Homo sapiens: one gene and its partners. The protein of the gene in region 1 purifies or fractionates together with the protein of each later gene. This does not show direct contact. Each region holds a gene or a part of one and is shown on either strand. Other genes may lie near its edges.

Region 1 (3,977 bases):
CTATGGCTTGGATGTAGCCCTCAACTGAAAGCCACAGTTTCTCTCAGATGGCCTGCTCCTAGGGGTGAGAATAGCTTCTAAATTTTGCTAGCCATGGGATTCTGCACCACTCCGTGTTGCATTTCCTTAACCCTGTCCACTTTGTGTAAATCGCCCCTTGTGAACTCTCCCCACTTACCTTGTTTGAATGTGCCATCTGTTTCTCTATCACCTTGTCACCATCTTCCTGGTGTTCAGGATCTATTCTCTGTTTCCATCTTTGGTGACTGGGGCATTAAAAAGGGGTGGATCAGATGAGTAAAGCAAAGCCTCAGGGCACAGATGGGCATCATCAATGCCCATCTGAAAGATCAATCGTCAACATGTTGCAGCCTGCCACTAGGAAGCACAAACCAGAGGACTACCAGGACAGCAGCTTGTAGCATGCCCTCCAATGGCAGCAGATGGCCTTATGGCTTTGGCTGTGCACCCTCAAGGTTCTCTGGCACTGGCAATAGATGACATTTGCTCCTACAGGGGGTGGGCAACCTCTCCAGGTTGCTTCACCTCCTCTTCAAGCAGCCCCTCCACCCCCTACCCCCAACCTACTCCTCCCAGATTCCACATATTATTGGGCAATGGCATCATTGTTCACTCACCAGGCGAGCCTAGTTAGAATTCACCCACAGGAGAAAACGAGTGAAGGCCGTGGGAAGCTAAAGTATGGTGCACCTCTGAGCTGGCTATGAACAAGTATTCCTGGGTATGGTGATGATGGGGATGAGCTCGTCTTGGAAAGGCAGGAGTTCTGGCACCTAGCTTCCCGTAGGATCTGGTTCCCCTCTTTGAAGTGTACCCAGGCGAAGAATGAGTGGCTCCCTTAACCCCTTCTCCTGGCCAGGACCAGTCTGCTAGATACTGCTGGCCCTATTTTCACCCCTAGCTTTGGATCCCTTTCTTCCCTGGAGGGAAAGAGGCCTTCAGGGCAGCCCCGCAGACACGACAGGAGGGATGCAAGAAAACAGGCGCGGCTGGGCATCCGAGCGTGGAAGGGAAATGTCCAACTGAGGGAGGTGAGGGATGTTGGACAAGCCCCGCCGCCCGCCGCACCGGAGCCGGAGAGAAGCAGAGACGTTGGGCCTCCCAGTTTCCTAGAGAGGCCGCGGAGGGCCCCGGGCGCCGACGCGCGTGCGCGACTGGAGCCGCCGGGAGGTAGGCGCGGGACGGGCGGCTGCGGTGGCGGCGGGTGGACCGATTGTCGCTCGGCGGCGGGAGTCGGTGAGAGGCCTGGCGGGGCGCGGGGGTGGGGGTGGCGGCATTGCGGGCGCGGGGCTCCCCGAAGTCCGCGGCATTCTCGGGCCTGCCCGGGCGGCGGACGGGGCCCGGCCTGGAGGCTGCGCCCGTGGCGGGGGTCTGGCGGTGGATCCCGCCCCCGCCACGCTGAGGGCGTATCTAGAACCTCTTTGCCTCCCAGGCGTCCGGGGTAGAGAATCTGGAGCCCGGGTTTCTCCGGGCTTTCTCGTTTCATCCAATTCTGCATATAAAGCGTATTTATCAGAGACAATTAGATAACACGGGAAAGTAGAAGAAAAGTAAAAGTAGCCGCAATCCTGAAATCTGTCTCCAGGCCTCCTGACATTTAAAATATCTGTGCATAATTCTGCACACTGACATCCATAAATATATATTACGAAATGAGAGCGTGCTCTTGCTTTTTAAAAAACCTGTTAGTATTATTGTGAGGAAACAATATTGTGCCAAAATAACACATAACATTTACCATACAATACATAAACGTTTACCATTTAACCATTTGGAAGTGTGTAATTCAGTGACATTAAGTATATCCATACTACTGCTTTTTAAAAATTATAATCTCCTGAATTTGTAGAATGCATTTGTTCTTATTTTGGCTAAAATTAGTGCTGGCATTATGACACCACTAAAACATTTTTTTTTTGGCGAGGATAATTAAGAAATCGTGTTTGCAGTTTATTTTCTGTAGGAGACACATTTGCATGAAGCTCTAAATGGTGAAGTGACATTTGTGCAGAAAAATAGCAAAATCTTGTTTGTCAGGGTGGTTATCTTTCACAATGAAGTAACTAGTATATAAAATGCAGTTTTTAAACAAAGGCAGAGCTCTAACCTGCAGCGATTGTAGCACACTCTGACTTGCACAGGCCTAAGAGATCAGAGTATTGTCTCCTTCCGAATTTAAAAGTGGTGGCCAGGAAAGAATGTTATTCTGTTTCAAACGGCTTGTAGTGCAAAACTAAAAACTCAGTATTAGGTTGGTTGTTTTGCAAGGAAGTGCCAGGGAGTGGTTTGAGCAGTAATTTGATTAAGCAGTTTCAGAGAGCCTCCATGTGTTGTGTGTGTGTCTGCGTGTGTGTGTGTGCATGCATGTGTGTGCATATTCAGGGACCAAAGAATTAGGCTGCTCTTTTATGTTATCTTAATGAAAGGCAGACACATTTTGGTTAGAAAAAAAAAAAAGTCTTACTGTAAGCCGAAAAGATGAGAATGTTTTGAAGATAAACCTCAGTATGCACTTAAAAAGGAAACTGACAAAAAGCATGAAAAATGGCAAGTATTCCACCGCTAGGTTTTCTCTGGCTTCCGGTATCCAGGAAGAATTAGTGCATAAGCAGTCTACGATGTCAGAGAGTAAACTATAGTAAAACATAACACTGTATTTTGCAATTTTCAAGATTTTGTATTAGAAACAATGTGAAAGAGTACATTTCTGTGACTCTCAGGCGAATTGTTAGGTGTTCTGTAAGATTGAATTTATGAATTTCTTTTTTTCCTTCCTATTCTTAAATTTATTTTCTTTTTCCTTGTTTATTTTATTTATTTTATTTTTGAGACGGAGTTTCACTCTTGTTGCCCAGGCTGGAGTGCAGTGGTGCAAACTCGGCTCACTGCAGCCTCCGCCTCCTGGGTTCAAGTGATTCTCCTGCCTCAGCCTCCCAAGTAGCTGGGATTACAGGTGTGTGCCACCACGCCCAGCTAATTTTTGTATTTTAAGTAAAGACGGGGTTTCACCGTATTGGTCAGGCTGGTCTCGAACTCCCGACCTCAGGTGATCTGCCTGCCTCAGCCTCCCAAAATGCTGGGATTACAGGCGTGAGCCACCGTGCCCGCCTCTTGTTTTATATTACTATGTAGCAGCTGTCACTGTTTAGCATACCACGAATCTGTCTCCTCATAGACGCCTCAAGGCAGTACTGGAACATACAGTAGGTTCTCAATAAATATATGACAAATTAATGAAAGAAGGAATCCAAATTGGTAGATAAAAATTGACAGTATTAAATGTCCTCGATTTTTAAGAGCCACTTACCAAGTTAATCTTTAATACCTGGCTGAGCATGGTGGCTCATGCCTGTAATCCCAGCACTTTGGGAGGCTGAGGTGGGTGGGTCACCTGAGGTCAGGAGTTCAAGACCAGCCTGGCCAGCATGGTGAAACCCCATCTCTACTAAAAATACAAAAAATTAGCTGGGCATGGTGGCGGGCACCTGTAATCCCAGCTACTTGGGAGGCTGAGGCAGGAGAATTGCTTGAACCCAGGAGGCGGAGGTTGCAGTGAGTGGAGGTCACGCCATCGTACTCCAGCCTGGGCAACAAGAGTGAAACTCCGTCTCAAAAAAACAAAACAAAACCTGTAATACCTAAAATGGAAATAAATCAGATAAAAATGATGATGACTGAATGACTGGAACTTCTCAATGTAAGATAAGACAAACCTTTTTTTTGAGACAGAGTTAACGCTCTTTCACCCAGGCTGGAGTGAAGTGGCATGATCTCAGCTCACTGCAACCTCTGCCCCGCCCCATCCCCTTTGAACAATTATCCCTCCTTAGCCTCCTGAGTAGCTGGGATTACAGGCATGCGCCACCACGCCCAGCTAATTTTCATATTTTTAGTCTCAAACTCCTGACCTCAGGTGATCCACCTGCCTCGGCCGTCCAAAGTACTAGGATTACAGG
Region 2 (3,500 bases), on another chromosome or scaffold:
CAAAGTGCTAGCTTTGGAGCCAGACTGCCTGGGTTTGTATATCAACATTGCCACTTGCAGATGTAGGATCTTGGGCCTCAGACTTCTTACCTGTAAAACAGGGGTGATAATAGAGCCTTCTTCGTGGCTTGTTGGGAGGATTCAAGTCTTTTATACATATAAAAGTACTAAGAGGCCGGGCACAGTGGCTCATGCCTGTAATCCTAGCACTTTGGGAGGCCGAGGCGGGTGTATCACCTGAGGTCAGGAGTTCGAGGCCAGCCTGGCCAACATGGTGAAACCCCATCTCTACTAAAAATACAAAAATTAGCCGGACATGGTGGCATGTGCCTGTAATCCTAGCTACTCAGGAGGCTGAGGCAGGAGAATTGCTTGAACCTGGAAGGCGGAGGTTGCAATGAGCCAAGATCTCACCACTGACTCCAGCCTGGGTGACAGAGCAAGACTCCATCTCAAAAACAAACAAAAAAAAGTACTTAGAAACTTATTCACAGGTCACCTTCTCACCGCGGCATTCGCCCCCTTCCCCTGTGCTCCTAACCTCCTTATCTGCTTTCTTCTCTCTTGCACCCATCATTACTTGGCATCTATTTCACATATTTGTTCTGCTCCTTTTCTATGTTCTACATACCCATCACCAGTAGAATGTGAGCCCCCCGAGGGCAGGGATTTGTCTCTTCCTCACCACTCTGTGCTTTTCACCTAGCGTTGTATTTGTCAAAGGAATGTTGAGAGAACAAGTGTTAGCTGCTGGTGGATGGCGTGGCCACAGAAGCTCAGTGTGGGTGTTGAATGTAGCAGGACCTGAATGGGTGGCCAAGGCGGCTGCACCATGTGGTGCTGGCTAGGGTGGGTGCCTCTGACTTGGGCTTTTTCTTTGCAGGTGTCACTCGAGAAGGTGCTTGGCATCACAGCCCAGAACAGCAGTGGCCTAACCTGTGACCCCGGCACAGGCCATGTGGCCTACCTGGCAGGGTAAGCAGATAAGGGCCTCGACGTCTAATCATTGCTAGGGAATTTGGAGCTTGGAACCTGAAGCCATCCGTAAATCGCTCTGAGCCTCATATTTTTCACCTGTAGAATGTGGAGAATGGGGCCTGCCTCTGAGAGCTGTGGAGAGGATTCCATAGCCCCCTCTCTGTCTAGAACAGTTCCTGGCATGTAGTGAGTGCAATGAAAGCCTTTATTATGACTACAGGGGGGAGGTGACAGCGATTCTGGGAAAGACAGGTGATTAAAGTCCACGCTGTGGTGTCAGGTAACCTGGATTTGTGTCCCAGCTCTGCCATGTATGCTGCTCTCTGAGCCTCTTCCTCTGCCTCTGTAAAACAGAGCTGGTGACCCCCTCTGCTTGCATAGTTGAGAAGACTGAAGAAGATGCTACAGCTGTTCATTCCATAAATACTCATGTAGCCTGGCACTGTGCTAAGGACGTCCCCTCTCTGGGTTTGTTTCCTTATCTATAAATGGGCCTAAATAGTCGTGACCTGACCTGGCAGTTGTGAGGATTTAAAACAATTACATCCCTCTTTCTCTCTTTTTGTTTTGTTTTGCTTTTTTGAGACAGAGTCTGGCTGTGTTGCCCAGGCTAGAATGCAATAGTGTGAATAACAGCTCACTACAGCCCCAACCTCCTGTGCTCAAGCGATCCTCCCATCTTCACCTCCCATGTAGCTGGGACTACAGGCACATGCCACCACAGCCAGCTAATTTTTTTTAGTGGAGATGAGATCTCACTCTGTCGCCCAGGCTGGTCTAAAACTCCTGAGCTCAAGTGATCCCTCCTGCCCCATACTCCCAAAGTGCTGGGATTATAGCCAGCTTAAGGTCTTAATTAGCCTAGGGCCTGACAGACATTACCTCAGAGGAAGTGTTGGTTTCTATTTAAGAACATAGCAATGTTAAAGTGCCCTAGAATTCTCAGCGTAAACACCTGGAGGAGGGGGAGGAGGAGGAGACCAGAGAGAACCGAGGGAGCTTGTTTATTTGTGGGCTTTTCTGGTGGGAATAGAATCATCCCAGGACCCCAACACTCCCCACAGTTGAGGCACATTTTCCTCTTTCTTCCCAGCTGTGTGGTGGTGATTTTGGACCCCAAGGAGAACAAGCAGCAGCACATCTTTAACACCGCCAGGTAGGCTGAGGCCTGGGCCCGGGGCAGGGGTGGAACCAGGGGCTTGGCACGCCTCCCCTCCCCTACACAGCCTGGAGATACTCATGGGTAGGTGCTCACTCATTCACTTACATGTTGGCTCAGCAGCATTCGCCTGTGCTGGGTGCTGTTCCGTGTGCTGGGGACACAGCAGTGACCAGAGGAGACGAGAATCTCTGCTGGCTAGAGCGAGACAGACTGTAAACTAGTCAGCAAATTACGGGCTGATCATGATCAGTGCTATGGAGGAAATGATGGAGGATGTCTTCGGGCAGGTTTGTGGGCAGAGAATAGGAGGAAAGCCTTATCAGAAGGCTCAGGGAACGCTGCCTTGACTCTGAGACCTGAAGGAAGCGAGAGGGTGACCCATAAGAAGCTGTAGGGAGAGCGCTTCAGGCAGGGGGCACAGGAAGGGCAAAGGCCCTGCAGTGGTTAAGAATCTCCGGCGCTTTAGAAGCAGCCAGGGATCTGGGTGCCTGGAGAAAGGAGCAGGGAAGATGAGGCTGGACCAGGCAGAAGCCACATCCCGTAGGCCTTGCAGCCTTGTAGAGGGTCTGCATAGCATGCTGAGTGCAGAGAGCAGCCACAGGAGGGCACCACAGGCCAGGAATGTGCTTTTCACCCCCAGCCCTCCAGCAGCTCTATTCCCTGCTTTGCTTTTCTCCACAAAATTTGCTCCCATCTCTGATATGCTGTCCAGTTTCCTCATTGATGGTATTCACTGTGGGTCTCCCTCAGTGTGAGCACTCTTGAGAGCAGGGACTTTCTCTGAGTTCATTTCTGTGTCCCTAGCACCAAAGAGCAGTATCTGGCATATTGATGGCTATTTTCTAAGAGAAAGACTTAACATGATTTGGGTTTTAGAAAGATCCCTTCAGCTATAAGTTTACTGGGGAAGGACCCGCTCCTCTGCCTTGGGGCTAACTGATCACTGCTACCCTGGGGATGTGGTCCCAATAGGGCTGTGACCTTTGGAAGGCACACCATGTCCCTCCTTGGCATAGCTCAGGCTCAGCTCCTTTGGCCCAGTTCTCCAGGTGGATGGATAAGGAGTGGGTTTTCTCCTGCCCTTATGGTCCCTAAGGTACGGTCCTTAAGCTACGGCAGGTTCTTGTTATCTGACAGAAGTGCATTCCCTCTTGAAAGTGGCTTTTTGGACCTTTTGCTCCTAACTGTGGGTTCTGTTACTGGTGATAAGGGCAGAGCTGGGTTCCATTCCTGGCTCAAGCGTCTATTCACTGTGGAATCTCAGGTGAGACACTTCTTTCAGAGCCTTGGTCTCCTCTGAAAATAAAATAGCTGCCTCCAACTGGGAGAGCATTCATAAGGCAGCAGCTACAAACCAGAG
Region 3 (3,500 bases), on another chromosome or scaffold:
ATTATTTTCTTTAAGCAAACCCAGATCTTAAGTAAAGTGAAAATCCCTGAACTTAATTTTAGCTAATTACTCCCCACTATAAGGTAAAATTTAAAGTACACTTTTAAAACAAGACTAAACACTAAAATCTTACTTGGTATCTAGAATTGGTCCAATCTTTTGTAGAGATTTGGCCACATTGAAGCGAACATTTGCTACTTGGTCTCCTGCCATTTTTAATACGATGGGCAGCATTTGCTTAGTAGTTATTTCCTGACCACAGGCCTCAGACAGTGCCTAGAAAAATAAGTAAGATGGCACATTTAAAATACTTTAAAAAATTCCAAAATCTAATGAAACAAATTAATATTTAATAAGAAAATAATTGACCAATAGGAAAATATTTCTAGTTTGAGCAGCTGAGTGGGGGACACAAGAATCATTCAAATGATCAGAGAATTAGACCAGAATTCACAAATAAGTTGAACTTTTAAAATACTGTAGTTTTGTTCTTTGTTTTTTTTTTTTTCAGGCGGAGTTTTGCCTTGTCGCCCAAGCTGGAGTGTAGTGGCGCGATCTCAGCTCACTGCAACCTCTGCACCCTCTGCCCCCTGCCCAAGGTTCAAGGGAGTCTCCTGCCTCAGCCTCCCAAGTAGCTGGGACTACAGGCATGCACCACCATGCCCGGCTAATTTTTGTATTTTTAGTAGAGACAAGGTCTTGCCATGTTGACCAGGCTAGTCTCAAACTCCTGACCTCAGGTGATCTGCCCGCCTCAGCCTCCCAAAGTGCTGGGATTACAGGCATGAGCCACTGTGCCCAGCCAATACTGTAGATTTTAACATGAATTTTAAAATTGACATTTTCTCTCATCTCCTGTCTATTCCAATTAATCAATACAAGACATATATTCCAAATAGAAGACAGTATACTGATAATTCAGAAATAGTCATGAATAATTTTGCTTTAATGATTAAGCTTAGCAATAACAGTTATGTTATACTTACATTAATGCAGAATAAAGTGGTCATTCTATGCAAGTAATTAGGATCATTTGCCATTACTAACACTTTGGGAACAATAGTATTTTGGGCCCACTCTGTACCAAACTTCTGAACTAGTTTCATGAGGTTGTTGGTGGCAGCTTCTCGGATGGCGTATACTGCAGAAGAGGTCAAAAACATGTTCTCATATCGCTTATTGTTTTTTAAGCATAACCTAGTTTACTTACATGAAAATCAAATGTGGACCAAAAGCAAAACCCCTCTGCAATCAGACTCCACATGTAATCATGCTGCAATGACAAGCATGCTCAGCTCCAACTCAGTTTCCAAGTGTGCATATCCACAGAAAAGGGATGCAAGGAGCTCACCATATGCATCATCAATTATTTAACAAATACAAGTGCCTACTATGTGCTACAAAAAGAACACAGAAGATACTTTCCCTCACAAGAAATATGCTCTTATCAGAGAAATGAAAGCTAACACACTCCATGAAGTCACATGGTGTAAGAGCAATTAGAATGAAGTGTGGCATTGTGTAGTAAAGGCTGTGAGGGTTGTAGCAGTGCAGAGAAGAGTGAACAGGGAAGGTCTAGGAAGGCTTCGGCACAGAAAGAAGCCTTGACTGGGCAGTGAAGATTTGGGAGGATCTGTGTAAGTGGAGAGAAGCGGGGAGGAATTCCTAGAAAGGGTAAAGACATGTATCCAGGACACAAACAGAAAAAACTGAAACCTGTGAGACTTCTAAGTTAGACAATTAGGGTGGACCCAGACTGCAGAGCATTATGAAAGACTTAGATTTGATTAGGAAAAACAGTGATGGGTTTTTAAAGCAAACTTGTGACCTGATGACCAATGTGGAATTTTAGCAAGATTATTCCAGCAACATCACGGAGAAGCGACGTTGACTGAGAAAGACAACAAGGAAATGGTGTAGAGGCCACTGTGGTCATCTATACAACAGCAAATACAAACATCAGACTGACTTGCTTCCTCTCCATGAAAATGCTTAGGTTGAAACAAGATGTCAAATGTCTTTGAATCAATGTGCCTGCCTTAACATCTAATAATTCCCTATATCCTTTGATCATTTATCAAAGACATAAAGCTAGATAATAAAGGTCTCAGCTACAATCCTCTCACAATTAGTTGCTATATACAGCACTGAACAAAAACAAGCCTGGTGTCACTTCACTTTACAGATCCAGTAAGACTCAAAATTTGGGCTCAGATTAACAAATCGAGGGTGGTAGGTACTAATTCCTTATTCTACTTCTCTCCCCAGGTGGGCCCAACCTTCCTGGGATGATAGGAAGGGCAGGAATAGCTATCCAAGCCACAGTCCCAGTCCTAGGCAATTTATACAAGCCTCCAACCAAGAAATAGGCAACTTCTTCTATTCATAGATCCTTCTGGGCAATGATGTTGAGAACAAGCAAGACAGCATAGACAAGTGACCCATACAACTGATTATCAACACTTAAACTGACAGTCTACAGGAGAAGCAACCTTTCGGTAAGACTCAGATGCACTAAGGAGCAAACTCAAGTCAACTGTTTTACTGTAATACAGATTCCTTCCCTTCATATCCATAGTCTTTGTCTTTGGCCCAAACCCTTCCCTGTCCTCCCCACTAAAGAGGAGCTAGCTAGAGTATTTGTGTCTTCTCCTCTAATTTTTTTTTTTTTTTTTTTTTTGAGACAGAGCCTCACTCTGTCTCTCAGGCTGGAGTGCAGTGGCGAGATCTCGGCTCACTGCAACCTCCGCCTCCTGGGTTCAAGCAACTCTCCTGCCTCAGCCTCCTGAGTAGCTGGGATTACAGGCGCCCGCCAACACATCCAGCTAATTTTTGTGTTTTTAGTAGAGACAGGGTTTCACCATGTTGGCCAGGCTGGTCTCGAACTCCTAACTTCAAGTCATCCACCCGCCTCAGCCTCCCAAAGTGCTGGGATTACAGGCATGAGCCACCATGCTCAGCAAATTACTATTTTTTTTAACACGCTTTAGATTTTTATCATAATGCCATTACCATAGGAAGGGATCTCTACTGCCAGAAAAACCAGAGACTGGGGAACACACATGCATAGCCTTGACCAAGACCTTAACTGCACTGAACTCTACTTGGCCAGATGCCTACTATGTTCTTGGTTCCTCTGACTGTTTTCAGAAGAATGCAAACCATTCCAGAGTTCTGCCTGTTTTCTTTTGTCTATTTCTGTCTCTTTCTCTCTCCCCATCTCCTCTCAAGGCCTGGCTGACCTGCAAGGTTTCTTTGAATGTCTATCTATGCTCAATAACTGATACCTTCTCCTTTCTCCTATAATAAATAAATAAATTTCCCTTCTACATTCCTCCCTCTGATCAAAACTGTCTACTCAACCACAGGAATATAGGTGAGTGATACTTTCTTCCTTATACTTCTCTGGAATTTTCACAATGTTCTTTTAGTAGTTACCTAACTAGGGGAAAAGTTTCAAAAACTCTAACTGATCCAGTGATCATTATATAACACTTATC

The links. Proteins that work in one complex are often made in the same cells at the same time.
Region 2: the proteins of ZNF445 (region 1) and WDR62 purify together in Homo sapiens (co-immunoprecipitation; one large-scale study listed by IntAct). This does not show direct contact.
Region 3: the proteins of ZNF445 (region 1) and PPP2R1B purify together in Homo sapiens (affinity purification with mass spectrometry, with the first as the bait; one large-scale study listed by BioGRID). This does not show direct contact.

Annotation. Positions count from the first base shown.
Region 1 is NC_000003.12:44,474,871-44,478,847, reverse strand, and holds the start of ZNF445 (zinc finger protein 445), read left to right. Parts: upstream 1-1,177; 5' UTR 1,178-1,257; intron 1,258-3,977. UniProt on the Homo sapiens protein: Transcription regulator required to maintain maternal and paternal gene imprinting, a process by which gene expression is restricted in a parent of origin-specific manner by epigenetic modification of genomic DNA and chromatin, including DNA methylation.
Region 2 is NC_000019.10:36,057,897-36,061,396, forward strand, and holds part of WDR62 (WD repeat-containing protein 62), read left to right. Parts: intron 1-883; coding exon 884-975; intron 976-2,071; coding exon 2,072-2,134; intron 2,135-3,500. UniProt on the Homo sapiens protein: Required for cerebral cortical development. Plays a role in neuronal proliferation and migration.
Region 3 is NC_000011.10:111,742,390-111,745,889, forward strand, and holds part of PPP2R1B (serine/threonine-protein phosphatase 2A 65 kDa regulatory subunit A beta isoform), read right to left. Parts: intron 1,142-3,500; coding exon 987-1,141; intron 277-986; coding exon 134-276; intron 1-133. UniProt on the Homo sapiens protein: The PR65 subunit of protein phosphatase 2A serves as a scaffolding molecule to coordinate the assembly of the catalytic subunit and a variable regulatory B subunit.